Linked DNA regions of Homo sapiens: region 1 is linked to region 2. Evidence: fine-mapped expression QTL. A gene starts in region 2. The other region holds a variant in brackets. All regions are shown on one strand. Distances are from middle to middle.

Region 1 (16,012 bases), 26 kb before region 2:
TAACTCTGTCCTTTGGGGCTTTTATGGAGGCTGCATTACTTAGGCATGACTGATTACATCACTAGTCATTGGTGATCAGCTTAATTTTTAGCCCCCTCCGCCCCAGAGGTGGGGGATAGGAGGTCAGCGTTGCAAGTCCCAACACTCTAATCCTGCCAGGGTCTTTCCTGTGACCAGCCCCACACCAGAAGCCCCTACCTAGGGGCCCCCAGCCACCCATCATCTCATCAGCACACAAAAAAACACTTATCTCTTTGGAGAACCCAAGGATTTCAGGAGTTGAATGCTGGGAAACAGGAGGAAGACGAAAGATATACTTTACAATATCACAATATCCTTTTATGTAAGTCTCTGGCCATATTTGTTGGGTAAATCCAGTGATGCTTCAGATGAGCAACACTGACTGCCCTCTGGCCTCAGGGACTGGGTGCTGGAAAGCATGGCCTGAACTCTGTGCTAGGCAGATGATACTGACCTTATAAGCAGGGTCTCGGTCCTGGCTAAAGGGCTGGGGCTGTGGCTTAGCCTATAAATGAGGATGCAGAGAGAAAGGATTTCTGAAGGGCTCAAGGCTGGCTCTGGTTTCAGACAATCTCAACAGAGTGAGTGTGTTGCTGGTTTCCAAATCAATAGTGGCTTCTTCAGAGATGTAAAAATTTGGGGAAACTTTTTAGGAATGGCACCATCAGTTTCTAAGTGAAAGGAAAAAAGTGATCCAAAATAAAACCTACATCATTCAAAATATTAGTGTTTTCTCCTCCAGCTTCCTGGTGTGCCCTGCTGATTAGACAGAGAGATTTCAGGACAGAGGACCAGGAAAGCCACAGTAGAATCCCTGACCATCCATTATGCACAGGATGCTCCAAGGGCCCCAGGCTCTGACTCCAGCACCAGGCAGGGGATGGGTGGAGGTGTCCTGGGCTGCCAGTCCTGCCCAAGGAAAACCAACCATTTAGGGTGGGATAAAATAAACAGTTGAGCCCGACTCTTTTGACCCCAAAGCTCAAGGGCAGAAGTGTTGCTCGATTTCCCGAGGTTGTGTTGCTCAGGACTTATCACCGATGAAACCAGCACTCCCTGAGGAGCGGCTGCCTGGCAGGAAGCACCTGACCACACAAAGGTGTGTCCCTCAGTTTGGGGTCCTTTGTTTGCAGGTGACTCAAGAAAAAGGGCAACTTTATGAAGAGGACCCAAGGCAATACTATGCAACCCAAGAAGAGGAGGAAGACTCGGGTGTCCCATGAGGGGATGCAGCTAAAACAGGTACTCCAGCAGAAACCCTGGGCCCCCTCTCTCTCTCCCACTTTCTGTGTGTATGGGACCAAAGTGGCTGCCTCGAAATTCTCTTCTTTCCCTGCCATCATATTGAGCGATTGGCAGGAGTTGACTCTTATGGCTCAATCACATGTTCTACCGAGGGACACACCGATTGGCTCAGCCTGAGTAGGGTGACCATCTGTGCTTTTTTCCTTGTGACCAGGGCCACAGATAAGCCAACCTCCACTTGGGGCAGGACAGATGGGTTTTCCGAGAAGGAGGTAGGGCCCAGGCTGGCTCTTTCTGCTCCTCCTTGGTCTCTGCAGACATTTAGACTCTAATGGTCTAGGGGGCACAGGCACAGGGGCAGTGCAGGAGGCTTGGACTTGGCTCGCTACTTGTGCATACGTTACCCCCTTTAAACATGACTGCAAGAGTGGCGAGGACAGGCAGTAAACATCCCTAGTTTCTCAAAACACGTACAATTTATCTGATGTGTCAGCAGCAGTCAAGGACCTTTTCAGTTTTTGCTCTGGGAGAGATGTTGCTGCTGTTCTTTGAATTGTGCCTGCAGATACCGTCCCTCCCCAGTGCCTTTTGCCCCCTTCTGTGGGTCTGGTGCCTCCTTCTCTGGTAAAGGCCGTTCGAACACGTCAGTATATATGGATGATGGTTACACAAAAGGCATCATTAACTGTGATTGAAAATCAAACTGCTATTTCATTAATAGGCCCATTATCAGGAAACACAGTGGCAATGGAATGCCTGCACACTGTTTCTATAGATACTTTTTTCCTTGGTGGCACTTCAAAACAAATAGCATTGCATTCCTGGCTCTGTGCGGTGGCATGTGTTCCTTGATAGACATAATTATCCAGGTATGCTAGGTGATCTTTATTTGAATGCTTTGAATTGATGAAAAATGCTATAATGCAGATTGTAGAGAGAAAAAAAAGAGAACTGTGTAATTCATATCCTACCAGGTATTATTATTCCTTAAAAAAACGAAAACCAACTCTTCCATTATCTGTTCCTGATTCACAGAGGTAGCCTGTTCGCTTGCGGAATGAGTTACATGGAGTTGCTCACACTCAGCTTCCCTGAAAACACTGCTGCCACAACCCCATGAAACGGGACCTGATACCCCTGGGAGTGGCCATGGGGAAGCTGGTGTCCGGCAAGGCTGACTTGTGAAACAAGGGACAAAAGGCCCAAAGACAAGAACTTGCCCTGACCCAGAGCTAGACTAATGTAAAATACTTACGGAATAAATGACTTCTTAATGCCCTCTTTTTCTAAGTCTGCAGAAAATAAGCCAAGTCAGGCCCAGAAATGGAGACGATGAAGTCTCTACAGCGATGGGGCAGCAAGGCCGGAGCAGCAGTGCTCACCCTGGGCGGGAACGCTCAGCCATGAAAAGTGTCCAGGAAAAGCAGGGAAGGAATCCTTCTCCGGATTGGGATTTTAACATTGAAGCCACAGCGTCCAGGAAGGAGCTGGTTCTTCGGCTCAGGCGTGCCCTTAACAGGGGTTCTAATGAGGGGTGGAGAGAATCCCTGTCAAGCTGCCCACGATGGTCATGGCTGTGACTCTACCCCTCAGATGGCTAAACGCATGGTGCCGGCTCCGCCACCGCGTGCCCATCAAAGAGACAAGAGGATGTTGCATGTCTTGAGATCATTCTAAGTGTACTTTGATACCCCAACTTTTAAAATAAAATATTGCCTCAACCCAAGAAAAGGAGGCCAGCAACCAGCTAATGTATTGGCCTCCCCGGGTAGAGATCTTGAACTTCTACTTCCAATGGCAGTTGAGTCCAGGAGGTCATGGGCTGTGGTGGTGAAGAGCCCTGTCTGTGTCAGTGGGAGAAAGATGCATGGAGCTTGCCCCCTGCCCTCGTGGCGGAGCCTTGTATCGAGGAAAGAATGTTGCAGCTAACATCAGGGACCCCAGCGAATGTGGGGATTAACCAAACACCAGGGCAATTTTTTAATGTCTAGGAAACCTGATAAAATCTTAACTTTCACCATGATGTGTTGGGACTGGTCCACATCACGCATGAGACCTGATGGTTTGCATCTCTTCCCTGCCTTGGTTCAGTAATGTCACGTAGACAGCTTGAAATTAGCCACGGTAGGGTAGGGCCATTTATAGCATGACAATTGGCAGATGCTATAAGTCAGGGCTTCCCCCATCCCAAACTGAAATCTGCTTGTTAAACGTTTACCAGTACATCATGGATGTTAGGGATACAGTGGGGTTTGAAACGAGGGTCTCTGGGCACCTTCTGCAGGTAGGCACCATGCTTGCTTCACACAAATTGTTACCTTTAATCCCAACATTAGCTTCTGTCCGAGAGACTCATGTTAACCATCGACCCAGCTTTTCGGATGAGGAAGCTCGAGGTTTAGAGGGTCTTTAGTGAGTTGTTCTCATTGTAGCCAGGGAGGAATCAGGGTTTAAACCCAGGTCTGGGGTCTCAATCGTGGGCATTTCTTCCAAGAGAGTAGGGGGAGAAAACAACACGGTTGTGGGGCTGCTTGCACCAGCTCCGGCGGGGCGCTTGGGGCTGGGATTGATATTGATCCGCACTGGGACATCTTCCTGGAGCCTCGGCCTCAGGGGGTTCCAAGAGGATGGGTGTGCCCTTTCTCCCCACCCTGCTCACAGTTGTGCCCAGAATGTCCCATAATTCAGAGACTAGAATGCAGCAGCCTGGTCTTATTGATGTTCTTCTAGACCAAGGGTCAGAGACCTTTTTTGGTAAAGGGTCAGATAGTAAATATTTCCCATTTTGAGGGCCATGCAGTCTTTGTTGCAACAATTCAACCGTGTTAGTGCAGTGTGAAAGGAGATATAAAGAGATGGTGTGCTGTGTTCCCACAAAACTTTATTTATAAAAGCACAGGGTGGCTGAATTTTCCCAGCAGGCCCTAGATTGCAAATCCGGCTTTAGACAATAACATAGGTAACCAACATTTAAAAGTATATGTTTCCTCTATGGAGCTTAATGAAGTTTCCATTTTGTTCATTTTGAATGAAAACAAGGGACCTTTAAACAATTTTCTCCTGAAACTTCTTCCCCCTCCCACCAAATAACCAAATCCGTGATGGAGAAAGAGGAATCTCCTCAAATTTATACAATCTATTGGGACCTCTTTTTTTTTGTTTGTTTTCTTTTGTTTTAGAAGGAGTCTAGCTCTGTTGCCCAGGCTGTAGTGCGGTGGCGCCATTTTGGCTTACTGCAACCTCTGCCTCCTAGGTTTAAGCGATTCTCCTGTCTCAGTCTCCCAAGTAGCTGGGATTACAGGTGCATGCCACACAAATGGCTAATTTTTGTACTTTCAGTAGAGATGGGGTTTCACCATGTTGGCCAGGCTAGTCTCAAACTCCTGACCTCAAGTGATCTGCCCACCTCAGCCTCCCAAAGTGCTGTGATTACAGGTGTGAGCCACCACGCCTGGCCAATTGGAACCTCTTAAAGCATTCATTCCACAAATACCTACTGAACGCTCAGCGTGTGCAAGGCACTGAGGATGAATACCTAAGCCCAGGCTGAGATGGTTGAGGCCGAGGTGCAGTGGGTTGACTCTCACCACGTCTGAGTACGGAGTCTCCCCACACAGAGCAGTGAAGAAACCAGGGGCCACCGTTGCGTCCAGCAGCAGAGATCCCCAGCTGGGCACAGGTTTCTGTCCTCGGGACCCAGTTGTTCAGCTTTCCTCTTCAGCTCTCTGAGATACCCTGGTACCTCCAACCAAACTCTTTCCCTCCTTCTCTATCTGTGGGTGTCTGTGGTTGGCATTACAAGCAGGGGATCCCGTCCACCACATGGGCCAGCATCACAGAGGTCTTGCTCTCATGCTAAGCACATTCTAATGGCGCTCACTCGGCTTGTTCACAGCCGTGGGTGACTATTACATTAGCATCATCAGGAGCAGGAGGCAATAGTGAAGACGGCCATTACAGACCCATACGCTCTGGCGGCCCTACACCACGTCACCGCCTTTTTACTATGTCTCCCAGTAAAAAACGAACATCGCAGTGTGGCTTTTGGGATAAATGTGCTGATGGCATCTCACAGGGTTGCTGATGGGCAAAGGGCCCCTTTTGTCTCCTACAGACCAGTTCAGGGTATCACTATGAAACGTGGAAATAAGTGCCAATTCCTGGCCCAGCCATTCAAGGGAGCATGTTGGAATCATTCTCTGGTAGATGCATCAGAAAGGAAGGAACATAGCAAGGTCTGGTTCGACTTGATTCACAGACCCACTGGTGGTTTGAACTTCTGCAGTGAAGGGTGGAGTTACAGAGAAACGAAGCCACATGATGTTCTGAATGAAGTTGCCAGGCCAGATGCGCTCCAGCTGTCATTTTACAAATGAGATTGGGGTCTGGGAAGTGAATGTGTCTGAGACCAAGCTGGCAGCTGCCCCTGAGAGCTGAGGATGTGCAGGAAGAGGGGGAGCAGCTCGGCTCCAGTGTCAGATGGCTCTGCTCAGGGAAGGGTGGAAGGGGGGACCTCAGCCTCCTCTCGTACCTTTGAGTGTCTTCTCCTCTTACAGAGCAGAGCAGGACTATAGGGAGAAGGGGAGAAGGCAGACACATGTGATTCTCCCAGAGGAGGTTCCAGGCTCTGTGGCCAAATCAGTGGCCTTGGTTGGCTGGTCTTATCCCTCATCTGCAAATTGCACCGAGACTCCATTGTTTAAAGTTCTAAGCTGGGTCTCCCAACCCTGTAAATGGCACTGCCCCGACTCTGACTGATCTTCCCTTCCAACCACCCACCTCTCTCCAGCCTTTCTGCCAGCTCAGGCATGCATTCCCTCTTGGAAACTGGGGAAATGGCCCCTCCTGCAGTGGGCAGAAGGAGATCTCCTCATGCCTTTGTTTTACACTCCTCCCTAGGGCTATAGCGAGTTATAGGACCTTCCCATTTTCTGGCCTGGTTTCACCCCTTCAGCAACATCTTCCCACCCCCTCTCACCTTTGCCCCAGTGAGATTAAACTCCTGTCAGGGCCCTGAAATCACTCTTCCTTAAATTCCCTCTGGGGCCCTGCAAATGGAGCATTCCTCCCTAGATCCTCCTGGGGGAAGAACTCTTCCCATCTTTCCAGGCTCCATGTGGCTATCTCATTTCCCTTCCCTTCACTAAGAAGCCTTCCTGGGGTGCCTGTGGCTCCCTTAGCTCCTCCTTCACCCTGGTGCCCGCCATGGGTGTGGGGGCTGTGCCTGCAGACTTCCCTCTGTCGGGGCTTCTGCATCTCTCTGCCCAGGGTTTTCTCTGGCTACACAGCCCTCTGCACAGCCCCCACCCTGCTCCGTGCCCAGAGGGTCAGAAACACCAGAGGATTAATGGTGACCAGGAGCAGCTGTCCATCAATCACTCTTGGGAGTGGGTGTTTAAATACCCCAGCTCTCTCTCCCCTCAGGCACACCAGCTCTGCATGCATGTCTGCAGTGGCTCCGGGAGTTGCCCCAGGGGCTCACTCTAGTACCCCACAGGTGTAGCTGGCTGAATAACATACGCTCCATTGTCTATCTTTCCTTCCCTATCTCACCCCTGCACTCCACTGCTGCAGTTTCCTGGGATTCCCTCCCAAATTAACAACTTGAAGCCTTGAATTCTGCTTCTGGGGGAGCTGGAATTAATCCAGGGACCTTTACCATGCTGTTGAAGTTCCCACTCCAAACCTCACTGGCAGGGCAAGCTCCATGAGGCCCCAGATGGGCATTGTTGGCTGTGTAGGATGCTATATCCCCAATCTGTAGCCTGCTGCCCAGCACAGGGCCAGGTTTCCACGAACATGTGTGGAGGCAGAGGGCATGATGCCAGTTCACTATGCAGCCACCCAGAAAATACAAGGACACTTGCTGGCTTCTGGGGGCCCACGAGTGCCTGATGGTTTGAATACTGGAGAAACAGTGGCCAATCATGCAAATGTGCTGTTTGTACTCTTTTCTTTTTTTTTCCAACTACGTATGATGTGCTAAGCCTTTCACGACTTACAAGCTGATGAGGGTGGGTGGGGGAAAGGTGAGTACTTGTCTTTAAAACACGTAGGTGACCTTTATCCTTCTCTTGTTAGAGAAATTCACAAGCTCCCTGACATTTGGGATCCCTGCTAGAAATATAGTCCTGCAGCCGGTTATTCCTCATGACTTTAATTAAATTGAGAATAGTATCTCACCTCCAAGATAAGCCCAAAAAGAAAAGAGACTATGAGATGTCCCTGCTTCTTTCTGCTTTAGATCTTTGTTGCAAGCATTTTTTTAAAGAAAAAAAATTAAGGTTATTTATTGACTGAAACCCTTAGCACAACTTTCTCCATTTATTAATAATTATTCTTATTACTATGGGAACGGTACCCAAACAAACTGAAATCAACCACAATTTTCTATTGTCAAAATTCACTCATAAGACTGGGCAGCTGAAGTGAATCCCCAGGAATGCTTGAAAAATTACATAATTATCTACAAAGTGCACTAATGGTGCTAAAGCAGATGGCTTCCACTGCACTTGCCATCCTTGACCTCGCAGTACAATAATTCCAAAGAGAGAGACCACAGCCATTTCCCGCTAATGGGTAGGGGTAACTGCTGTGAGGTGTGAGGTTATTTCTGGCAATTTCAGAGAATTAATTCTCTGAAATAGAAAAGAGTAATACCACGTAGAACGATGGCTTGACAGATAAAACTGCGGCAGAAAGATGGTATTTGAAGTCTGTCCAGCTCAGGGAAAATGGATACAGAACTGAGGGAAGAGGGCCCCAAACTCAGGTGTATTTGCTCCTCCTTTCTGTGCTTGGAAACTCAGCTGGGGGAATGGAGGAAAGAGACATCTACGGCTGAAGACTGTGATCAGATGGAACCTGAAGAATGTTAGATAACGAACACAATTTCAGGGAGAAACAGGTTTAGCAGACCATAACCAGGAAGGGGACTTCCTAGATGCTTAAAAAAATGCAAATAAACAACAACCAGAACTTCCTTAATTAATAAGATTTTATTTAAAAACAGCTTCCACTTGCAGCTATATCTGCACCTCATGCCGAGCTGAGTAATTTCCATGGTCAACTGGGTGATTAAGTGTTGCAGCAACTGGAAGTTAAAGAGTTTTATTCCAGGTTGTCGATAGTAGCGATGAAGATCATAATGACACCATTGCCATAGCGCTGTGCAGTTTACAAAGCACTTTCGTGGTCCATGCACCGTTTGAGTCACAATTATCAGGGAAGGGAATCGTTTTAGAGGCTGAAGAAGCAGAATGATTTGCTGAAGGGTGATTCAGTCTTTAATCCATCATCATTGATCAAAGTTTGATTTTCTATTAACAATTAAAAGGTTTCCTTTTATATCACAAAGTGTTTTTACTAATGTCATAGGCAAACTTTGAATACTTTTCAAATTTGGGAGATCTTTTTTCAAGTTTTCTTCATACAAATGAAATGATTTGGAAGGATTTTCCACAGACTGGCTCCTGCTGCCGTGTCTCCCCTCCACTCTCCATATTCTTCTGGAGTCTAGCACCAGAGTAGTCATTTATATCACACCAGAACTTCAGCTTTTGCCATATTGTGTAAATGTTGAGTGATTGATGTGGGGAAGGGGAGCAGAAACACTCCTGGAAGCCGCATCTACACTAGCCCGGCTGTCCTCACTGAACTGGAAGCTGAGTCTCAGTGCAAATGCAGAACACTCTTAACCAACACCACTCAAAATAGCTTATTTTTGCAATTTTTACAAAAGTGTTTGACCATATGAACATATTGCTAGGGTTCTTCCTAGGGCCTGGAGGAAGCCCATGCAGGTGAGAGGCCTCAAAGTTCATCTCTACCAGGTTCACAAAACCTCCACCTGCCTTGGGATGGTGAATGGCATTGGAAAGAACGGGAAAGGAAACGGCAGGGAGGCCCTTGCCTTAAACCACACCAAGGCATGTGGCTTCTTCTTGCGTATGGGTAAGATAAACACGG[G/A]AGAAAAGCAGGTGCACTATTCTTCCTTGTTTTTAAAATGGCAGCAATTCTTTGCTGAGCATAAAAAAACAGGTGTAATTCTCTCTTATACCAACAATGGACACATGGATACTAACGTGTTGGCTGCGAGGATTTGTGAGGAGAGGCCTGGAGCTGGGAGTCTAAAAGAAAATGACTGCATCAGGCACCAGAAATCTTTCTGGAGGTGATGAAAATGCTCTAATATTGGATTAGGTTGATGATTACACAGCTCTGTAACCATCAATGTTATTAAATTGATAACATTTTTAAGCTTTAATATTGAATCATATGCTTGAAATGGGTGAACTTTCTGGCATGTAAATTATACCCCAAAAAAGTTCTTAAAAATAATTAGAGGAGGTGGCCATCTGCCTTAACTCAGGGTGTCTCCAGGTGTGGCACAGGACGTAGAGGAGGTGGCTGTCCACCTTTACTCTGTGTGTCTCCAGGTGTGACACAGGAATTAGAGGATGTGGCCATCTGCCCTCACTCGGGGTCTCCCCAGGTGTGACACAGGAATTAGAGGATGTGGCCATCCGCCCTCACTCGGGGTCTCTCTAGGTGTGACACAGGAAGTAGAGGATGTGGCCTTCTGCCCTCACTCGGGGTCTCTCCATGTGTGACACAGGAATTAGAGGATGTGGCCGTCTGCCCTCACTCGGGGTCTCTCCAGGTGTGACACAGGAAATAGAGGATGTGGCCGTCTGCCCTCACTCGGGGTCTCTCCAGGTGTGACACAGGAAGTAGAGGAGGTGGCCGTCTGCCCTCACTCGGGGCCTCTCCAGGTGTGACACAGGAAGTAGAAGAGGTGGCCATCTGCCCTCACTTGGGGTCTCTGCAGGTGTGACACAGGAAGTAGAGGGGGTAGCTGTCTGCCCTCATCGGGGTCTCTCCGGATGTGGCACAGGACGTAGAGGACATGGCTGTCTGCCCTCACTTGGGGTCTCTCCAGGTGTGACACAGGAAGTAGAGGAGGTGGCCATCTGCCCTCACTCGGGGTCTCTCCAGGTGTGACACAGGAAGTAGAGGAGGTGGCCATCTGCCCTCACTCGGGGTCTCTCCAGGTATGACACAGGAATTAGAGGATGTGGCCATCCACCCTCACTCGGGGTCTCTCCAGGTGTGACATAGGAATTAGAGGATGTGGCCATATGCCCTCACTCGGGGTCTCTCCAGGCATGACACAGGAATTAGAGGATGTGGCCGTCTGCCCTCACTCGGGGTCTCTCCAGGTGTGACACAGGAAGTAGAGGAGGTGGCCGTCTGCCCTCACTCGGGGTCTCTCCAGGTGTGACACAGGAATTAGAGGATGTGGCCGTCTGCCCTCACTCGGGGTCTCTCCAGGTGTGACACAGGAAGTAGAGGACATGGCTGTCTGCCCTCACTCGGGATCTCTCCGGATGTGGCACAGGAAGTAGAGGACATGGCTGGCTGTCCTCACTCGGGGTCTCTCTAGGTGTGACACAGGAAGTAGAGGAGGTGGCAGTCTGCCCTCACTTGGGGTCTCTCCAGGTGTGACACAGGAATTAGAGGATGTGGCCATCTGCCCTCACTCGAGGTCTCTCCAGGTGTGACACAGGAAGTAGAAGATGTGGCCGTCTCTCCTCACTTGGAGTCTCTCCAGGTGTGACACAGGAAGTAGAGGAGGTGGCTGTCTGCCCTCTCTTGGGGTCTCTCCGGATGTGGCACAGGACGTAGAGGACATGGCTGTCTGCCCTCACTCAGGGTCTCCCCAGGTGTGACACAGGAAGTAGAGGATGTGGCCATCTGCCCTCACTCGGGGTCTCTCCAGGTGTGACACAGGAAGTAGAAGACGTGGCCATCCGCCCTCACTCGGGGTCTCTCCAGGTGTGACACAGGAAGTAGAGGAGGTGGCTGTCTGCCCTCTCTTGGGGTCTCTCCGGATGTGGCACAGGACGTAGAGGACATGGCTGTCTGCCCTCACTCAGGGTCTCCCCAGGTGTGACACAGGAAGTAGAGGATGTGGCCATCTGCCCTCACTCGGGGTCTCTCCAGGTGTGACACAGGAAGTAGAAGACGTGGCCATCCGCCCTCACTCGGGGTCTCTCCAGGTGTGACACAGGAAGAAGAGGAGGTAGCTCTCTGCCCTCACAGGGGTCTCTCCAGATGTGGCACAGGATGTAGAGGACATGGAGGTCTGCCTTCACTCGGGGTCTCTCCAGTCACAGGACTTGTCAGTGGGGTTTTGTTTTAAATACAGTGTTTGGGGCCTGCCTGCCCAGTAACCAGACTTCTGCTGTGGAGCCCGGGGATCTGTCTGGTGTCCTATTGTCTTGCACAATCTGTACATGTACCAACGTCTGAGAACCTGCTCTGCACCTGTGAATCACCCTCATGGCCACCAACCCACAGCCTCATGCTGAGTTCATCACCCCGATCACTCCACAGCTCCTCCTGCGGAACCTTTCCACGGGTGCAGGGAAGGGGGTGCCGCTGTGCCAGGCCCACCAGCACCTGCTGGACCCCTGAGTGAAGGCCTCTCCTGCTCCCCTGCAGCCCAGCCCTGTCTCTATGCGGCTTTCTCAAGATAACCTGTGCTCACCCCTGTTTTTCAGTAGTTCTAGAAAGCACTGTTCAATAACTGGATGCTGCTTTAGCAGTTTGGACAAGGAAGTTTGGAGCAATTTAAATGTTAAAAACAGGAATCCTTATATTTTGATTAGTATTACTGATTTCCAAAAGAGACGTTTTCCTTTCAAAATCCGAAAAGAAGAAGAGTGGAAAGCACCAGGGAGAAGCGTTTTGGGGCCATCCGTCCTTCCAGGACTTCCTTCCAGATACTGGAGGCTGTAAGACCCTGCTGAGCTGCTGAAGTCAGTTTCATTTGACTGCATGGTTTACAGTAAATAGCTTGGACAACTCGGAGAGGAAGTTAATTTATCCTCTTGCTGGAACATTTCATTAGATCAGGGGTCTCCTTTTCTTTCAGTCAGCCAAGAAATTGGAGCGAGCAAGGACAGGGAGGCGTCCGTGAAGGCCAGACGTGCCGGCTCCTTTGTGCCGGGAGTGATGGAAGGAGTCAGTTTGGGCAGCGCTCCAGACACGCCTTCGCTGCTCTGTGCAGCCTGTTTCTTCTTCCTTTTCTTTGCTGGCTGAAAATTCTGGATACTTAGTGGAATAAGTGAAATTTTGTGGGGCGTAAGACACAAGAGGGCAACGAGGTGGGATGAGGGGAGGCTGGGCTTGCTTTTGCCTGGGTGCCCGCCGCGACTGTGCTGCCTGCTTCTGATGAAGCTGCTACCTCTGAACGCAGCACCCCGAGGCAGTGCTGAGTTGGTGGGAGAGGCTCTGGCACCAAGCGAGGCCTTGGGTTCAAAAGGCCTGCCTCCAGGCACTAGCTGTGTGACTCCAGGCAGGCAGTTTCTTCCTCTGAGTCTGTGAAAATGGATTTAACTGCAAAATTCACAGACCCTTGATAAGGTTAAATGCAAAGGTGCCCACCAAGGGCTCTTATACCTGAGGACCAGGAGGCAGTGGCTGAGAAGACTAACCTGGGAACCACAGAGTCATGCCTATTCCTCTTGCAAAGGGCTTGACCTGGGTGGTGATTTAACCCCAGTGCAGCCAAACGTAAGGCAGGGAGGCTGATATCCACCCCTCCAGGCTGGGATCTCACGTCAGGGCACCCAGCCTGGGACCAGGGGTTGCATCAGAGGCTCCCCATCCTCACGTGGGATTCTCCTTCCTCCAGCCCCTGGCTGGAGTGCTCGGACTCTGTGGTCAGATAACCCTGGAGCTGAATTTCATCTCTGAGTGTTATCAGCAGCATGGTCTTTTTGGCGAGTTATTTCGACTCTCTGAGCCTCCTTTTTATCTTTTAACAAATATTTATTGAATACAAAATTTGTGCCAGACACTGGGTAGGTATGAGGATATTGATAATGAACAAAAAGAAGCATATTTTCAAGAGGGGGTGGTAGGCATTAAGCTCTGATAAATGGGAGGCTGCCACCCAGGGGCAAGACACGGATGAACCAGGGATGCTCACAGGGGCATGCTGAGTATGGTGCTGGCCCCACCACAGTGCCAAAATCATGGTTTGAGTCATTATTATTATTTGTGCTATTACTATGACTATTATCACCCATGCATTTTAGTCCTTCGTAGGCATGAACCCTTAATCAACATTATATATTGCTGCTATTAGTAATTATTTTCCAGCATTATACACACGTGGGAGCTGTCAGACAGGGGAGAGCCCAGTGTAGCCAGACCTGGGAGGGTAAAGCTACCGATAGAGACACTGCTCAGCCTTTCTTGCTGCCTCCTTTACCTTGGTTTAAACATGGTCTCCCCAGAAGTGGAGCCAGCATCTGATGTGCTTCAGGGTCCAGCATTGCCAGGAAATTTCTTAGAAATGCAAATTCTCAGACCTGGTAAATTAGAAACTGTAGGATGAGGCCAGCGCCTGTGTGTCAGGAAGCCCTCCTGATGACTTGGTTGCTGGCTAAGTTTGGGGTCAGTTGGTCCCCCAGGGAGGGGAAGACCAGGAAGCCAGACAAGCTGCACATCTGAGGTAGCACCTTCAGCTGCATAGAGAAGCATCCTGAAGCCTCTCCAGAAGTCCAGCAGATGTTGGTGTCATGCTTGTTCATCCTGCAGAATCATGAGCCAATCAAATCTCTTTTCTTTATAAATTACCTAGCTTCAGATATTTCCTTATAGCAATGAAAAAAAATTGTTGGACAGGGTGGATATGTTCTGGAGAGCTATTGTAAGCGCGGTGACTGTAGTCAATCATAATGAATCCTATACCTGGAAATTGCAAGACAGTTGATCTTAAATGTTCTCACCACAAAAAAAATGGTAAGTGGCTATGTTAATTAGCTTGATGTAATTGTTTTACAATGTATACATGTGTTAAAACATTATGCAATGTAGTATACTGTAAATATATATAATCTTCATTTAGCAATTATACCTTAATAGTGCTGGGGGTGAGGGGGGAAGAGAATTGTTTGGAGCCTGCAGGAGATGGAGGGAATGGAAAAAAAAGGAAAGAAAGAAGAAAGGTTTAACCTTCTTTCCATGTTCAACAAAGTGTACATAAATGGGGATGTCCCTCTGTTTCTCCAGGGTGAAGGCATTTCAGGATGTGAGAGGGAAGTCAGCCTTGCTAAGTGTTGGACAAGCACTGTGGGACCTCCCCAAGGAGAGAGAGATTTACCTCTTGCCTTTCCCATCCTTTCTTTCCTTTCTCTCCCTCCTTCCTTCCTTCCTCTCTTTCTTTCTCTCTCTTTCTTCTTCTTCTTTCTTTCTCTTTCTTTCTTTCTTTCTTTCTTTCTTTCTTTCTTTCTTTCTTTCTTTCTTTCTTCCTTCCTTCCTTCCTTCCCTCCCTCCCTCCTTCCTTCCTTTCTTTCTTTCTTTCTTTCTTTCTTTCTTTCTTTCTTTCTTTCTTTCTTTCTTCTTTCTTTCATCTCTCTTCTTTTCCTCTTTTTTTATTTTAAAAAACTTCGCTTGGTTGGGTTGTTATTTTGCTTTTTGCTGGGTAAAAGAACAGATGATATGGTTGGACGTTTGTCCCCTCCAAATCTCCTGTTGAAGTGGAGTCCCCTGTGTTGGAAGTGGGGCCTGATGGGAGGTGTTTGGATCATGGGGGTGGATCCCTCATGAATGGCTTAGCAGCATCCTCTTGGTGATGAGTGAGTTCTCACTCAGGTCTTGTAAGATCTGGTTGTTCAAAAGCTTGAGACTGCCCCCTTGTTTCCACTCTTGCCATGTAATACTCCAGCTCCTGCTTTGCCTTCTGCCATGATTGTAAGCTTCCTGAAGCCTCTCCAGAAGTCCAGCAAATGTTGGTGTCATGCTTGTTCAGCCTGCAGATTCATGAGCGAATCAAACCTCTTTTCTTTATAAATTACCAGCTTCAGATATTTATTTATATTAATGCAAAAGATGGCCTAACACAGAGGCTAGACCATTAAGTAAAGCAGCTGGTGGTAATGGACTTGCTCAATTTCCAGACTTGCATCTTTGTAAATTACCCTGGCACCAAACACAAGCATTAATATGTAAAACATACATCAGTGAAGATTATCTTACCATCTTCAACTATGCTGTCACTGGAGATAAGAACCAAAGCCATAGCTAGACAGATTGGCCCCAGGTGTCAAATGGATCTTTTCTAGTGAGGTAGGGGGTGGGGATGAAGGACAGAGAGATGCCAGAATCATCTGATGAACTTTCAAAGATCAGTAAACAAATAGAAAAACACTGATATTTAGGGAACTTTAAAGTAAACAACATGAAACATAATTTCCATAATCAGACCTGCAAAAAAAAAAAAAAAAAGAAAAAAGAAAGTCTGACATTACCAAGTGATGGCAAAGATGTGGGGGAGGCTGGACATCACACAAAGATCCTTTCAGTCAATTTCATTGCGGCTTCATTTATCAGAAACTTACAGAACAACTTCGTAGGGTTTTGGATGTATCTATAGAGTTTCATGTAGGGTGATATATACTATACAGGTCATTTTTCAAATTTGAAATTAATATAGAGATTTACTTTAATGATAAAACAAAAATGCAGCAGCAAAACAACATAACAGAGAAACTTAGAGAATTAAATATTATTTTCCTATGGTTAGTGTTTGCATGGTATGTCTTTTTTTGTCTTTTTAGTTTTAACCTATCTGTGTCTTTAAAGTGCTTCTCTGATATACAGCAGGGTTGGGTTTGCTTTTCAGTCCAGTCTGACACCCCCTTGCTTTGCTGTTAGGAATGAGCAGGCATAG
Region 2 (16,012 bases):
AGGAACTTCATCTGAATGAGCACAGCTCCATGGACATGGGGCTACGTTAGAGGATGCCATCTGTGTGCAAAGGGAGAAGATGAGCTGGGCAGTGCAGGTGCCTCCAAATCTGTTCACCCTGGTGAGAGAAGGATTTGGACAGTACCCTGATCTTGTTGCTAGCACCCACTTGTGTATTTGTAAATTAATAAGAGGATGGGGCCAGGCATGGTGGCTCACGCCTTTAATCTCAGCACTTTGCAAGGCTGAGGTGGGCAGATTGCTTGAGCCTAGGAGGTCACAACCAGCCTGGGCAACATGGTGAAACTCCACCTCTACAAAAAAATACAAAAATTAACCATGGGTGGTGGCATGCTTCTGTAGTTCCAGCTACTCAGGAGGCTGAAGTGGGAGAATTGCTTGAGCCCAAGAGGTTTTGGCTGCAGCGAGCCATGATTGCACCACTGCCCTCCAGCCTGGGCAACAGAGTGAGACCCTGCCTCAAAAACAAAACAAAACAAACACAGATGGATGAGCTGGTTCTCACACAGCAGTCAAGCAAGCATCCTGGGAATGGGATTGAGAAAATAATGTCCAAAAAGTCAAACTGAGTGGCCATTTCCACCTTGTGGTTCATGTTTGTAGAAGCTGGAGGGTTTAAGCATGGCATCACTGGTGAAGTCACAAGAATAATAAATCACAGGAACTGCCATCATACGGCAGGAAGAAAGCATTAAAGCTAGTGTAAAATCTGGGTGAAGTCCTGGCTATGTCATTCCCAGCTGGTCAGCACATGTTCTGCTTCTGAGCCACAGTTTTCTCATCTATAAAATGGGGAGGGTAGGAAGCACACCTACTTCAGAAAGTTGTGTGGGGTGTAAAAGAAAGGAGTTCTGCAGCTTGGTAAATGATAGAGCCCCATATGTATTTGAGGTAGGATTATGTTGTCTAATTTGTGTTTGGCCAAGATTCAAAGTCTCTTGAATTCTCACTGAGAAAAAGCACTCAGGTATGTGGTGAGAAAATTGAAGGACTTTCTTCACTTTCTAGGAAACAATCAAGATACCAGGTGGATCCATCAGGGCTCTGTGCAGGAAACAGAAACTACTTGAGGTGAAAGTGGCTGAATACAGGGAATCAGGTGCTCATGAAATTACCAGATGAAGGAGAAGTGGACTCTGGAGATGCAGAGATGTGCCACCTTGCAGAGTGAGTGTGCACTGCAGAATGACCTGCCAGGCAGCTGCCATCTCTTCCACCATCAGGAAAGTGAGGAATCAGGAGACTGCCATGGAACTATCGATCCCAACAATACATGAAAACGGACGTCTCTTGGTTGGGCAATGGGGCTCAGGAATCTGCTGCCACCATTGTAACTATGAGGACACCCAGACAGCATCATGCAGCTATGGAGGCTGTAATGTCATCTCCACACCTGCTCAGCTGGTGGCCTGACACAGGTGCTGGTGCTGGCAGAATCAGCCATGGGAAGCCAGGAGATGGCCTCATTTCTTCCATATCCCCCTGGGAAGTGTCTTTCTGCTTGACAGAACTCAATCTCATCTGTGGGTGAAGGTGTGTTTGTGACCTGTTACTGCCTAACAGATTACAGCAAACTTGGTACACATTTATCGTCTTACAATTTCTGTGGATCAGGGATCCAGGTGGGCTTGGCTGTGTCCCATGTCTCCTGTGGCTACCATCATGGTGCCTTAGTTGGGGCTGGGGTCTCATCTGAAAGCCCAACTGGGGAAAACTCTGCTTCCAAGCTCACTCGGGTTGTTGGTGAGCTCAGTTGCTCCAGGGGTGACAGAAGCCTCAGTTCCTTGCTGGCTGTTGTGCAGAGCCACCCTCCACTCCAGTTCCTTACCACAGGGACCTCTGCAATGTGAGGGCTTACATCCTGGAAGCTGAGATGGCCAGAGAGTCTGCTGGCAAGATGGAGGTTACAATCTCTTGTAAGCTAATCAAGGAAGTGACATCTTATCCCCTTAATTACACATGTCATCCCATCATCCTATTGGCTAGAACATGTCACTAGCTCACCTCACACTGACAGGGGTGCAGGATTCCACAGGGGCATGAATACCAGGGGGTGGGGATCACTGGGGACCACGTTTCTATCTGCTCACCACATAAGAGATTGTAGAAAATGTATTGTTTAAGTTTTCAGTCTTAGCAGTACAAGAAGAACTTGTGGAGGAGCTGGGAATTCATGGTAAATGCCAGTTGACCATATCCAGTGGAAAACAGGAAAATAAAACCCACAGGGCAACACGAGGAGCACTCTGGACATCATAAAGCAAGTGGGAATCCCTCTACGTAGGTCTGGTGACAGGCAGGGCTTTGCAGCTTAGAGGCTACTTTCTACAAATGCCACTGCCAGTGAGTGGTCTCTGGTGAAAAGACTGTAAAGCAGTAAATTGTCCATAGCAGAGCGGGAAGAAATCCTCTGCTAAGAAAGGCATGCACAATGATGCATCTGAACCCAGTCATCAACAGCCCAGAAGCGAGCACCAGACCCCAGCCTTTCAGACGCAGCACATGCACCATCCTGAGCTCAATGACCCAATCTGATAAATGGGATTAATGACGATCTCCACCTGCTGGGGTGTTGAAGCGTTAATAACTACTTTTCAATGTTAATTGTCTCTTTAATAATCAAGCAATTAGCACATTGCCTAGCATATTGCAAATGCTAAAAAATGTGGGCTATTCTTACTTTACAATCCAATGTCTTCCTTTCCCAGATGAAGAAGCTGTGGACCAGAGGAATAAGGTGACTCACAGCACATTAGTGGCCAAAATGTCTATGGCTACTTAGTGGAGGTGAGCCTTGCAGCCAGGTCTCTTACAACCAATCCTCTTTTCATCATACTCTAAGAGAGAAACTTCCAGTAAAATAGGCAAAGGTCCAGTGTTTTGGTTGAAATTGCTGTTTTTATAGTTTAAAATGGTTGAATGTTCACATGGTTTAGGGGAGAAGCTGGCATCTTGAGTCTTCCTGCCAGGCACTAGTTGAGTTAGCCATCTGGCCTGAGCACACTTGTAGAGTCTCTGGCCTCTTGGTCCAGTGGTCAAGGATACTCTCAAGGTCAGGTTCAATGCATCTGCCTCAGATGGCCTTACAGCTAACACAAATGACCCGAAGCTCAGGTTGAGAGCATTTGAATCAGCTGGCTTCGTATGATGAGTGCATTAGAGAAACCCACACATTCTTCCGATTCCTAATTAACATGAAGTTCATACTTGCACATCAGGGTTTGGCTTGTTGTCTCTACCTTGCTTGCTGGTGTTTCTCTGACAGATAAAAGCTGGTGTGAATTGGGTGCTTCATTAACTTGCCTGAAAGGGACAATATTCATAATCAACATGCTGTCAAAATCCGCTAAGTCCCACCAGCTGTGGTTTTGCTCTGATATGAACGGGACTGGGAGCTCATGGAGGACAACAGGGAGGGGGGCCAGAGGGTCCAGCCTGCTGCCGGGTTCCCACCTTATGCTTCAGAGTTGAAAATCCCAGGGCCGTTTGGGTGCTCTTCTGGAACTGGTAAGAAGCTGAGTCCATGTAAGGCCCCATGAGGCTCCCCAGCTGACAGATGAGAAGCCCCCTTCCCCAGCCACATCTTACTGGTTCCAGCTCATTGGTTATCCTGGAAGCTGTTACATGTGCAAGCAGCTGCAGGGAAAACAAGTTTGTGAAGCCACCTGCAGGCATGTATAGAAGGGGTGGGGGCAGGATTTTTACTTCCTCTTGCCGCAAGTTTTGCTGGGCCTTCTCCTGGGAACACTATGCAAGATCTCCCTGGAGAGATGACATCACATCATGAGGGTTAGAAAGGAGTTGGCTAAAATTCTGTGTTTAAATTGAAATAGGAGAGAAGGGTAGCCGTCAACCCTCGCTGCACATCAGATTGACCCAGAGAGAATTCAAGCAATAGCTCTACTCAGGAATCCTTCAAATAGCCCAGGATGTTTTGTTGCTCCAGGATGGGGGCTGTGTGTTTGTGCTTTTCAGAACAGCTCAGATGATTCTAGTGTGCAACCAAAGTCAAGAAACATTAATAGATGCAAATAAGTGTGTGCTGGAATTGTGATGCATTGCTCGTAGAACTCCCCATATGTACATTTAGACCATTCATTGTCTACAAACACTTGTTGTATTTCTTATCATGCTTAAAGCTGCAGATACAGTGAGGAGGACTGGCAAGCTCCTGGCCCTTTCATGGCATCCAGGCCAGTGCCTATTAGGGAACAAAGCAGAATTCAGCTAAGAGTAGCCAGCTTCTGCTAGGAGGACATCCAGAACGAGAGCTGGATGAATTTGGTCCATCACAGGTACACTCTATTTATGCCAGAACAGGGTGATCTCAGGGAGAGGCCTGCTGTGGGAGAGTGACCGTCGCTTCCCCCATCATTGGGCATGAGTGGTGGGCTGGACATCTGCCTTGTATGGGTTTGTTCGGAGCAATCCCATTTTACAGTGTGATGAGTGGGTGAGCTGGGAGGATAAAATGCTGATGAGTGGCTGCAGATAGGAACTCCTGGCTCATGTTTATTTTTAGACATTCAAGGTGGGCTTTGCTCATGCCCATATAGCATTTCCAGAACAGGTCACATGACGTGTCAGCAGTTCAGAGGCATGGCTTAGTCCTTCCTGGTCAACATGAGTTTGTTGGTATTCACATGATGACCTGTTTATGCTCAGGGTGGGGCACCAGAGCCAGGGATTCAGGGCAAACTGTCATGGTGGAGGCAGGTAACTTGAGGGAAGAGGGGACTGCTGTGGGTCCAAACATAGCTTCTCACATGCTTACTAAACTCTACTGTGTAAGGCATGTGTCCTTATCTATATAAATGAGAATAATGACACCTGACTGGTGGCATCACTGGGCAGATCAGAGTTGAGTCTGTAAAGTGTCAACTTTACAAGGCGCCATCCCTGACACATAACATGTGCTTAATGAATGGCAGCTGGGGTTAGGTTTGTATCAGCTACCTATTGCCTCTATAGTGCCACATAACAAATTACCCCAACACTGAATGGCTTGAAAGAACTACCATTCACTATTTTTCTTTGAGTTTTGGATTGGCTGGGCAGTTCTGCTGATCTGAGCCAGGCTCAGCTGCCTCTACTGGGGTGGCTCGCTGTGCTGCAATCAGCTGCATGCTGGTTGGGGGCTGCTGGTCCAGGGTGGCTCTGGAGGCCAGTCCGTTCTCCTCTAGATATCTTTTAGATTATTTTTCTGTCAAGCAACCCTGAGTATGTTCTCTCGGTGGTGGCAGAGGTCAAAGAGAGTGAATATCTTTTCAGAACTTGGCTTGGGTCACATTTGCTAACATCCATTGGCCAAAGAAAGCCCCCTGGCTGAGCGAGCCAAGAGTCCAGTGGGACAGGAATACAAGGAGGCCATTAATCAGGTAATCAATGCAACCACTTGACCACTGTGGTCATGGGAGAGAGGAAGACAGTCTACAAATCCGATGTGTCATTTTTCCTTCACCTGATCTGAGGTGCTACCTAATTTTGTGACAGTGGAGGTAAGACATTGCAAAGCTGAATGTAAGATGTCTATGCTTACATTCAGCTTTGCAAAGTAATGTATTTTGCTGAATGGCCAGAAGACTATGATGAGGGTTTGGAGAGGTAGAAATAAGAATCTAATATTGAATCCAGTAGGTTGCAATGATTAAAAAACAAAATTATAGGATATGCCTTAGAAACTGTGAAAATAGCCTCATTTTTAAAGACCTTTCAGAATGTGTCTGTTGAATGCATATTTTCTTTTGCAGTTTTCTCAACAGTAAACATCGAAATAATTGAGTGTTTGCTGTTCAGAGATGCCTCTTTGTGTGAACTAATAAGTGCCCTTCGGTGCTGCATTTTGGGGGAGAACTTAAATAAAAATGGTCAAGCATGATTAATTCTGCCCACTGCCAAGATGTTAATTGCTTCATTTTCTTTCATTTCAGAGTCAGAACAATGGGTCTTAATGGGCAACCTATCTCTCTCTAAGAATGACCAATCAGAGAACAAGGCCAGGCCTTGAAAGTGATGGTGATCTGCCATTCAAAATAACAGAACCTTGAGGAAAGGTGAAAGACAGGTCCTTCTCAGAGCTGGTCTGGACCCCTGAGCCTCCTGGGTCCCCCTCCTTCCATGATCTTCCCTCTCAGGGAGTTAGTAACTCAAAAGTCGTTTGGGGGAACAATGTCTTTGCTTTTGCTCATAAATCAGTCCCACTGGTCACTTGAGGGAATTGTCGCATTTTGCTGTGACACATTGCTGTCTTTGAGAGAATAATTGCCAGATTTGGCCAACTTGGGAACAGCTTCCTTCATCTTCATTTCCTATCTGGGGATGCCCTAAAGAGTATTTACTTTCGTTTAAAAGAGAGCAATTTCTTCTCATGAAATCAACAGTTTTCTCCATGAGCCAAGCTTGTTTTATGATATTAAACATTTAAATAAAATTATAAATGTACCATAAAATGCTGATGGATGATTAATTTATTTTTATTTTGCATGTTTTAAGGCTGTGGGGATTACTGCTCTGAAGCAGATCCAAATATAGTTCTTGAATTCTATGTAGAGCTGAAAGAATCAGTCCCCAGCAACGGTTGAGTGGGCAGTAAGAGATGGCGGCCCACTCTCTGTGCTGTTGCTGTCCCAAGGAGAAGAGAGGAAAGAAGCTGGAGGTGGAAGGGAAGTTTAGGAGCAATAATGGGGATGGATGGATGAAAGGGAATTATTTCCCCTGTACCCTCTTTCCCTCAGCCAATGAGCCTTCCAGGATGGGCCTATCCTGTCCCTGCACAGCTGCCCCGTCCTTCAGGGTCACCCTGACTTTCCATCCAGAGCACAGAACTTGAGCTGGGAGGCCCGCGTCTGAGCCATCACTCTACTCCTTTTAGCTCTGTGAACTGGAGCATCACAGGAAACTCCATAAGCCTCAGTTTTGCCATCTGTGAAATGGGTGAACAATCGCCAACCAAACCACTGGGATACCCAGAAGACCCAGATAATACCCTGACAACCCCTAAGGTGTCTGTGGACTTGATGAGCACAGCACCAGCCCACACTAACTTCCCTGTGCTGCCTTCACTGGCCTTATGAATACACTGAGTATTTCAATCCGGAATAAAAACATAATAGTCACACACCATCTTTCCTTTATCATGGTGAAAATTGAGGATTTACTCAGTTAAGTAACTTGTCAAAGGCTAAAGGAGGAATCCAAACCCAGGTGAGCATCAGTCCTCTGATCTGTTCTTCCCAAGCTGTTAATAGATTGAGGAACCCAGAATTAGATCACGAACCCGGCACCTATGAAGCACTCACCTGTTCTTTCAAATACCACCCCTCAGCGGCAGGAGGGTCAGGAGGGGGTGGGCAGGACAATTGAACTAAACTAAGCTACATTGAAGAGCAGGCCATTTTGCTCTGAGTGTGTGTGTGATGCTGATGGGGCTACATCAGGTTGAGATTTCGCTATGATTTCCTCCGGCTCCCGGTTCTCAGCTTGGGGGCCAATCAGGCAGCTCTTGTGTGCCTCTTAACACACGAGGCTGTGGAGTGGCGTCCAAAGAGGCGCCTGGCGCGTAAGTAGTGGGTGTGAGATGCAAATCTGGGCTCTTAAGTCATAATCCTGTTTGTGACATCGCCTCCGGTTGCTACAGTGATGATTATGTTATCAGAGGATTACCGTTTTCTGTGAAGAATGGGTAGAAAGACCAAACCAGCCTCCAAGAAACCAAAGGCCTCGTTCATAAACAATCACTCTGAAAAATTAAAACAAAGCATAGGCAGGAACACATTAGCTGACAAATGTGTGACACTGTGGATTCTTTTATTCCAAATAAAATGCTTTTCAGGTTTTTAAGTTCAAAGCTTGTTTTAGGGCAGAAAATAAGCCATCATAACAAAAGGACAAAAAGGGGAAATTTAATGAGAAATATGACAGAAGACAAGGAGAGCAGAGAAAACACAAAAGTTGAAATGTAGCAGATAACAGAACAGAAGGATATTAAATGACTTTTAATGAAAGGATCACCCTGAAAAAATACAACTCGTAGAGCAAAGTATTTTAATTATTTTATTACAGGAAGAAAGCAAATTAGCTGTCACCCATAAATAAACACAATCCCCATATTAGAGTGAATTTTGAGAAGAAAGTTTTCAATTGAGACTGACTGAATAGAAGGCCCATGTTTGTACATGTATTTACATGTAAGTTGAACATTCTTCATTGACAGACCAGGTTGTCAATTGATGTTTCAATCTAGCATCAGTTTAGTGTTAGGTATAAACAAAAGCCTTTAAAAAGTGAGAAGTACGTTTTTGGAGATCTTGATGCTTCCATTCAAAACATCTCCAATGAAAAACGCCTGTCCCATCTCAAATTCCAATTTCCTTTTAAATTGTAAAGAGCTAGCTTGAATACTGGTTTCAGTTAGCATGGGGCCATCTATTTTGGATTTTATGTTGTACATTCTTTCTGAATCAGAGAATAATCTGTTATTCTAAAGATATATTCCATATTTGTTAACCATCCAAGTTTAGACCCATCTGTATCAGTTAGCAGTGCTGTAATAATGCTGAGTAACAAATCTTTCCATAACCCAGAGGCTGAAAACAACAGACATTTCTCACTTATGAGCCAGTAAGAGAGTTGCATGGCACCACGGCTGGGCTAGGTTGGGCTCTGGACTCCCAGCTCCTGGCTCTAGGTTCCAGGCTCCAGGTTGTGAATTGGGTTGAGTTCTGCTCCTTGAGCCTCCCATCATCCTTGAATTAGTGGCTACCCAGGGCATGGTTTTTTGTGGTAACAGTAGGAACACAACAGGCCATGAGGAAGCACCAGATGCCACCTAGGCTTGGCTCAGGATTGGCATGTTGTCTATGCTTATGTTCCATTGGCCTGAACAAGCTACTTATCCAAGCCCTACTTCAGTGAGATGAGGCAAGACTTCAGTGGGATGAGGGAAGTGGCCCGGGGAAGAAGGGAGGGAAGATTTTCTGTATTGTAACCCAGCACATGGTGCCATCTGACCAGAGGCTGCTCCATCCACTTTGGACCCTGAGGAGGAGGCATCTTACAGCAGCAAGAGCCTGGAATGGGAAGCAGTGGAATTTCAACTCTGTTCATCACTTCTCAGCCACGGGACATTGGGCAAGCCTCTGAGCCCCAGCACCTTCATCTGCAAGGCAGTTGCTGTGGGGTATGTGGGAGCACAGCCTTGGAAGCCTGGAAGACACGCATCTGAGTTCTGGTATTTGCCACCTGCTGGTTGTACATTCCTCGATGTTCAGTTTCCTTATCGTGAAATGGGGATAAGGCCACCTCTCTTCCTTGTTGGAAGTCCAGTGCAACTCCCTGTTGGGAGCGGGGGGAGATATGGCATAGGGACTATCAGATCAAATAAGCAAACAAAAGTGAAGTATGTAACACCTTGACTGGCATGCCATCAGTGTTTATACAATGTCCACAATTTTATTATTTATAAGTATATGGTGATCCCCAGAAAGATATGTGTGCTAATACCAAGAACTTGTAAATGTGACCTTATTTGGAAAAAGAGGTTTTGCAGAGGTGATTAAGTTAAGGATCTTGATATGAGATCATCCTGTATCCTCCAGGTGGACCCTAAATCCAATGACAAGTATCCTTAAATAGACAGGGCACGGTGGCTCACACCTTTAATCCCAGCATGTTGGAAGGCTAAGGCAGGAAGATTTCTTAAGCCCCAGAGCTTGAGGTTAGCTGGGGCAATATAGCGAGACCCCATCTTTAAAAGAAAAAAAATTAGCTGGGCATGGTGGCATGCGTCTGTAGTCCCAGCTGCTTGGGAGGCTGAGGTAGGAGGATCACCTGAGCCTGGGAGTTTGAGGCTGCAGTAAGCCATGACTGCATCTGGGAGTTTGAGGCTGCAATGAGCTGGACTGCACTCCAGCCTGGGTGACAGAGCAGAACTGTGTCTCAAAAAAATAAAAAAATAAAAGTAGACACACAGAGCAGAGACAGGGAAAGAAGAGGAAAAAACCATGTGAAGTGGAGGCAGAGATTGGAGTGATGTGTCCAAGCCAAGGAACACCAAGAGCCATCGGTGGTAGAAGAGGCCAGGAAGGGTCCTCCTGCAGAGCCTCTGTGGGGAGGATGGCCCTGCTGATACCTTGATTTCAGACTTCTAGCCTCCAGAATGCGGAGGGAATATACCTCCCCATTGTGGTCATTTGTTACGGAAGCTCCATGAGACTTCTACACACGGGTTGCTGTGCAGGGCATAGCCTCATGTGTGTGGCTGAATGTCCTGGTTGTGACTCCAGTTTGTACCTGGGGTTCGAGTTAGGCCCCTCAATCACAGCAGTTACAGAGTAGAGGAGGGTCTTATACCTTGAACCAGACTGCTCCGGCCACCCAGGAGAGCAGCCAGTCTATACAAGGAGCCAGAGCAGGCAGAGCTCGCTATGGGTGAGGAAGGCTGGATGGGGCTAGGCAGGGGGGCTGGGGAAAGGGCTCAATGGGGAGGTGATGAGTGAGCAGAGAACTGAATGAGGTGACAGGAATGTCGGGGTCAGAAAGCACTCCAGATATGGCAGGTGCTGGGCCCTGGGCAGACGTGTGAAAGAACCAGCAAAGAAGCTGTGGGCACAAAGCTTTGAACCTAGCAAATAAGAGAAACATCATGCACACCAGACACTGTGATGAGCAGGCTCAGCTTGAGTCAGGGAGAGTCACCTCCTGCACGATGTCCTGGAACCCACTCACGGAGCCAGAGGATGAGGGGGTCTGCTTTCCCGGGTGCCAGCCATCCTCCACGAGTTCTCCTTCTCCTCCCCTTCTCCTTCTTCCCCCTTCACCATGTGCGGTGTGACTTTTCAGATAAATGAAACAAAATTGCCCCTTTTAAAGATCTACTAAGAGCCTCCATCTCCTGGCTCTCTCAGCTTTTTTTCTTGCTACTTGAAAAAAGAAGGGGCCAGGTTGAGAGGAGCTGTGCAAATGAATATGAAGCCCACTTCCTTCCAGCTGTGGCTGAGAGATGGCTCTTCTCCCCCTCTCATTATTGAAGGCCGAATGGAGGCTCTTGGAGGCCTGTACCTTTCAGAGCTCATAAGCCTAGCAGCTGTGTGGAGAGGGAGCCAGGCCTTTCCAGGGTTGTGTCCTGTCCAGTCTGGGCAGTGTGAGGAGTGGTCCAAAGGATGCCTGGCCAGGGTCGCTGGGCCCTGATGGTAAGTCAAAATCAATGGCCCATGCAAGCAAGGGGTGGTGAGATGGCCTTTGTATCAGTCCATTTTCACACTGCTATAAAGACATACCCAAGACTGGGTCATTTATAAAGAAAAGACTAACAGTTCCACAGCATTGGGTTTGCCTCAGGAAACTTACGATCTTGTCGGAAGGGGAAGAGGCATGTCTTACAAGGCAGCAGGCAAGAGAAGTGTGTATGAGTGAAGGGGAAAGATCCCCTTATAAAACCATCAGATCTCTTGAAAACTCACTCACTGTCATGAGGACAGCATGGAGGAAGCTTCCCCCATGATCCAATCACCTCCCATTGGGTCCTTGACAGGTGAGGATTGTGGGGATTATAATTCAAGATGGAATTTGGGTGGGGACACAAAGCCTAACCATATCAGCCTTGCTTTGAGAAATCCAAGCTGACACCTTGCTGACCATCCACTCTGACAACTCAGGGCTGGGTCACTGTCTGAGGCTGGCCAGGACCACTGGACAAAAAGGATGTGGTTTGCATAACTGCATGTCTGTTCCTGCTGGTGGTTCCTAATGGCATCAAGAGCCATCAGTAGCATATGTATGTCATGTAAAATCACAAATGCAGAGCCCTCTTGACCAGGGTGCCTTCCCACTCGGACATCCCGTCAGTGTGAACCATCGCTTCACATTAAGATGTAGCCAGACATTAACAGACACAATATGTCACTAGAATCAGCTGTATCTGGCCACATCCAGAGTGGGTTTATGTGACAGCCAATGTTACTGGGGACTTCACAGTTTTAAAAGGAGATTGGAAAAGTGGCATTTGGAGGAGGAGTCTAACTGTGGTGATGGGAGATCTACAAGCCAAGTTATGTAGGGTCTGAGTAAAGAAACTGGTCATATGAAGACAGAAGAGAGGAGGCCAAGGGAAAGGACAATGGTTTAAAAATATTTGAAGGCTTCAGAACAAAAGAGGAGGGCACTTAGTAAGTTCCTGTGAAACAAATGAGCTGGATTTTTGTTTTGTTTTGTTTTGCTTTGGAAGAACGAAGTTTTAGGAAATGAGTTGCAGCCACATGGATACAGCCTTCCTTGACTAGAAGGCATCCCCTTCAATCTTGTCCAAAGAAGATGTGCTATTTTGGGAGAAGATTGAATAGAACTGAAAGACCAGACTCCTTGTGCAGCAAGTGAAAGAGAATCCATGGTCACTGGGTCGTCTACATAAATGTCCCCAAGTAGGGCTGCCTTCAGGCAAGGCTGGATCTAGAGGCTTGAACAACAGTCTTTGAAGACATTGTTGAGCTCCTGTTGACTCTCTCCCCCACCTTTTTCAACATCAGCTTCACCCGAAGCTTCTCCATTGTACCTGTGGCCAACTCAGGCTCTGGAGATGTGGTGTGTGGGCTCCAGACCTGGGTGGACAGGATCCCATCCTGGACACATGTTTTTGGTTAGAGGCCTGGGATCCACTGATTGGCTCCAGTCCATCATGGCCCATCCTGGGACTCAGTGTGTGGTCAGTTACAGCCACTCCATGTGGCTTAGCATGGCACCAGGATGTCTTCTCAAGCAGCATTGGCAGTGTGGCCAGAGGGTAGGGAGAAACTGCTGACCAGGAGACAGTCTGCCCCACTGCACCATCTGCCAGAGGTGACAGAGAGATGGTGGGTATAGGAGGTGGGGTCAGAGCAGGCGAGCTCTAATTTTCCTTCCAATGGTCACAATAACACAGTGACAAGGGCATTGCAAGAGTTTGGCATAATGTCCCTGTGCTGTAGGTTCTACTGTCATCGCTGGTTTGCGGATGAGACCACAGAGTCTCCGAGAAGTGTAGAAACTTGCCTAAGGCCACATAAGGAAAAGCAGGGGACTGCAAACTGAACTCGGATGGATCTGACTCACAAATGCTCACTCTTAGTCACCACCCTACACTGTTGGGGCACCAGGCTAACAGATGGAGAGGAACATGGGCCCTGTGTGGACAGAATGTTGCACCTCAAAGATGTCCATGTCCTAATCACTGGAACTTGTGGATTGAGTGTGCTGCCTCACGTGACAAAGGAGAATTCAGGCGGCAGATGGAATTAAGTTTGCTAAGCAGCTGACCTGGAAATTGAGGTTATACTCGGTTACCCAGGTGGGTCCACCGTGATCTCCATGGTTCTCATAGGCAGAAGGCAGAAGAGAGGCAGGGTCAGAGGGGGCCAGGGGGATGGAACTGTGGGAACAGCACTGAGAGGTGCAGTGCTGGCTTTGAAGGTGGAGGAAGGGGGCTCTGGAAGCTGCAGAAGGCGAGGAAATGGGTTCTCTCCTTGAGCTTCCAGAAAGAAGGCTGCCCTGAAGACACACTGATTTGGGCCCAGGGAGACCCATGTCTGACTTCTGACTTACAGAACTGTAAGATAATATATTTGTGTTGCCCTGCCTGCTAAATCCAGCAAATTTGTCACAGAGCTGCTACAGTCTCTGACCGTGGCCCCCATGAGTTCCCAGCACTACAGGAAAGACAGACAAGTGTGGCTGCCCCAGAGGACCTCACAGTGCTCAGGACCATTAGACAGCCTGGTGGGATGAGAAGGGCTCAGGGAAAGTCCTGACACCCAGCAACTTCGATGCAAAAACGTTGGAAACTCAGCGACAAACCTAATGGTTACATATTTATTTCTCTCTCTGTGAACTGCCAAGCCCCCTCTCACTCTGTCCCCTTGCAACCTCCTTCAGCGAACCTTGCAGGGTCCCCCAGCAGCGGGCACTCTCTCCTTCCAGTCTCCAGCTGTAGGAGGTGATCACAGCGGCTGCCAGGCTTGAGCCAGTATCAGAATATCCTGCAGGGCAGTGAACACAGAGCTGCCCCCACTACCCCCAACCAGAGCTTCTGAGTCAGCAAGTCCAGTGGGGCCTGTGAATTTGCATTTCTAACACATTCGCTTGTGACGCAGCTTTTGCTGGTCACACTTTGGGAACTGCAGATCCATTACCAGTGCTCTGTCTGTGGCTCTAACCCCTTCCTCTTTGCACCGTTGTCACTGGGATGGGGCTTGTCTTCCCTAATTAACGTTCACAGACGATCTTTATTGAGCAGCCACCGGGGGTAAAGTGCTATACTGGGCTATTCATATGCCAGATGATCTCATTAAATCTGCACAACCATGATAACATGCACTATCCTTACCTCCACTTTACAGAGAAGGAAACTGAGGCTCAGGGACTGTATCAGTCCATTTTCACATTGCTATGAAGAAATACCCGAGACTGGGTCATTTGTAAAGAAAAAGAGGTTTAATGGACCCACAGTTCAACGTGGCTGGGGAGGCCTCATAATCACGGCAAAAGGCAAAGGAGGGGCAAAGGCATGTCTTACGTGGCGGCAGGCAAGAGAGAGCGTGTGGAGGGGAACTCCCATTTATAAAACCATCAGATCTCATGAGACTTATCCACTATCATGAGAACATCATGAGAAAAACCCACCCCCATGATTTCATTACCTCCGACCTGGTGCCTCCGATGACACATGTTGCTTATGCATACAATTCAAGATGAGATCTGGGTGGGGACACAGCCAAACCATATCTGAGCTGTGAAATGACCAACTCAGTTTCAAGGTCAGAGAGTCTTCTTCCAGGGCCTGTTCCCATATCCGCTGCTCTGTCTGGGGAACAGGTCCATGGGGTCCCTCCCCATGTCCACAGCCGCTCCTGCAGCTCTGTGCAGACAGTAGGGGCCCAATAAAAGTGTACTGAAAGAAACAATGAATCTGAAGTGAGGCTTCAGCGGAGTTTCCTTATTTTGTTTCAAGGGAATATTCCTAGAATATAGGATGGCGCTACATTAGAGTAAACATAACCAAGGAAACACAGACCAACTCAAAATAATTTGGGGCCACTGATGTCATAGAACTCAGGCCCCTCTCACCCTCCACTTACTCAGCAGTTTTGAGTTTGACTTCTTGTCCTTCCTCCAGGGCCAAGAAAACTCCATCCCACAAACTGAGAGAAATGTGTAGAAACAGGCAACCTACTATATGACCTTCCTTGCTAAAACCAAGTGGTACCCAGCCCCGCTCCCTTCCCTGTTGTCCAGTCCCAGGATGCGAAGGACACCTGTGCTCAGAAACCAGCATCGTAGAGTGAGCCAGGGTAGGGCTCTTTGTCTCCAGTTTGAATGCCTCGGGGACATGCTTGTGATGGCTCTTGGCTCCTTCTTCCAAGCTCCCAGGTTCCTGCCAGCAGAAACTAAATCTTCTGGAACTAACCTGCTACATTTTTGCACTGAGACAGTCTCCCCAAGAGCAGGTCTCTTCAGGTACACCATGAAACTCATTGTGTTCATCATCTAACTGACTGTAATTAATTGAGGATAAGAAAAAAAAAACAGGCGCAGAAGAAGAAACACAAGGGAAATGAAGACGGATTGTTAAATTGAGTGCTGTGAGGAGGCAGTGAAAGCCTCACATTTCCCTGTTCTAATAACCTTAGTTAATATGCAATGATCAATCATGCCATCACGAGCATTTTTAGCTCACCAGCTTATCAATATGAGGTGGTTTCCCATCGATGGTTCTGACGTGTTGCCGATACAGACTAGAAAGGCGACAGGCGGCTACTCATCTCTGAATGCCTGTGACCATGATGCCAGATTGATGCGTGTCAGAATACCCTTATTCTTCTGGAAACCAGTCTGATGACAGTAATTAAGCCATGAGAGTTGGTTGGGCTGAACCCAGGACTATTCTGCTGCAAACAAATACTTCATTGATCAAACATATTTTATTCTTAATATTCGTGGATTAGATACACTCTCAAAATACCCC

Alleles and levels. Positions count from the first base shown, and alleles are read on the strand shown. Sizes are in standard deviations (SD) of each study's normalised expression.
For the expression in testis of the gene that starts at base 7,586 in region 2, A is the low allele of the variant in region 1 and G is the other (small effect, 0.20 SD a copy in GTEx).

The links. PIP is the estimated chance that this variant, and not a neighbour inherited with it, causes the effect.
Region 1: its variant is fine-mapped to the expression of LINC01718 in testis (GTEx, PIP 0.97).

What each region holds. Positions count from the first base shown.
Region 1 is chr20:61,096,253-61,112,264 of GRCh38, reverse strand. No RefSeq gene overlaps it. Among named protein-coding and RNA genes, the nearest start is that of LINC01718, 25 kb to the right of the region's middle. RefSeq lists an enhancer at 9,911-11,110. The variant G/A (reference allele first, on the strand shown) is at 9,235.
Region 2 is chr20:61,070,638-61,086,649 of GRCh38, reverse strand. It overlaps LINC01718 (long intergenic non-protein coding RNA 1718), which reads right to left and starts at 7,586. Exons shown (of 2, transcript NR_109919.1): 1 at 7,320-7,586; 2 at 6,471-6,670.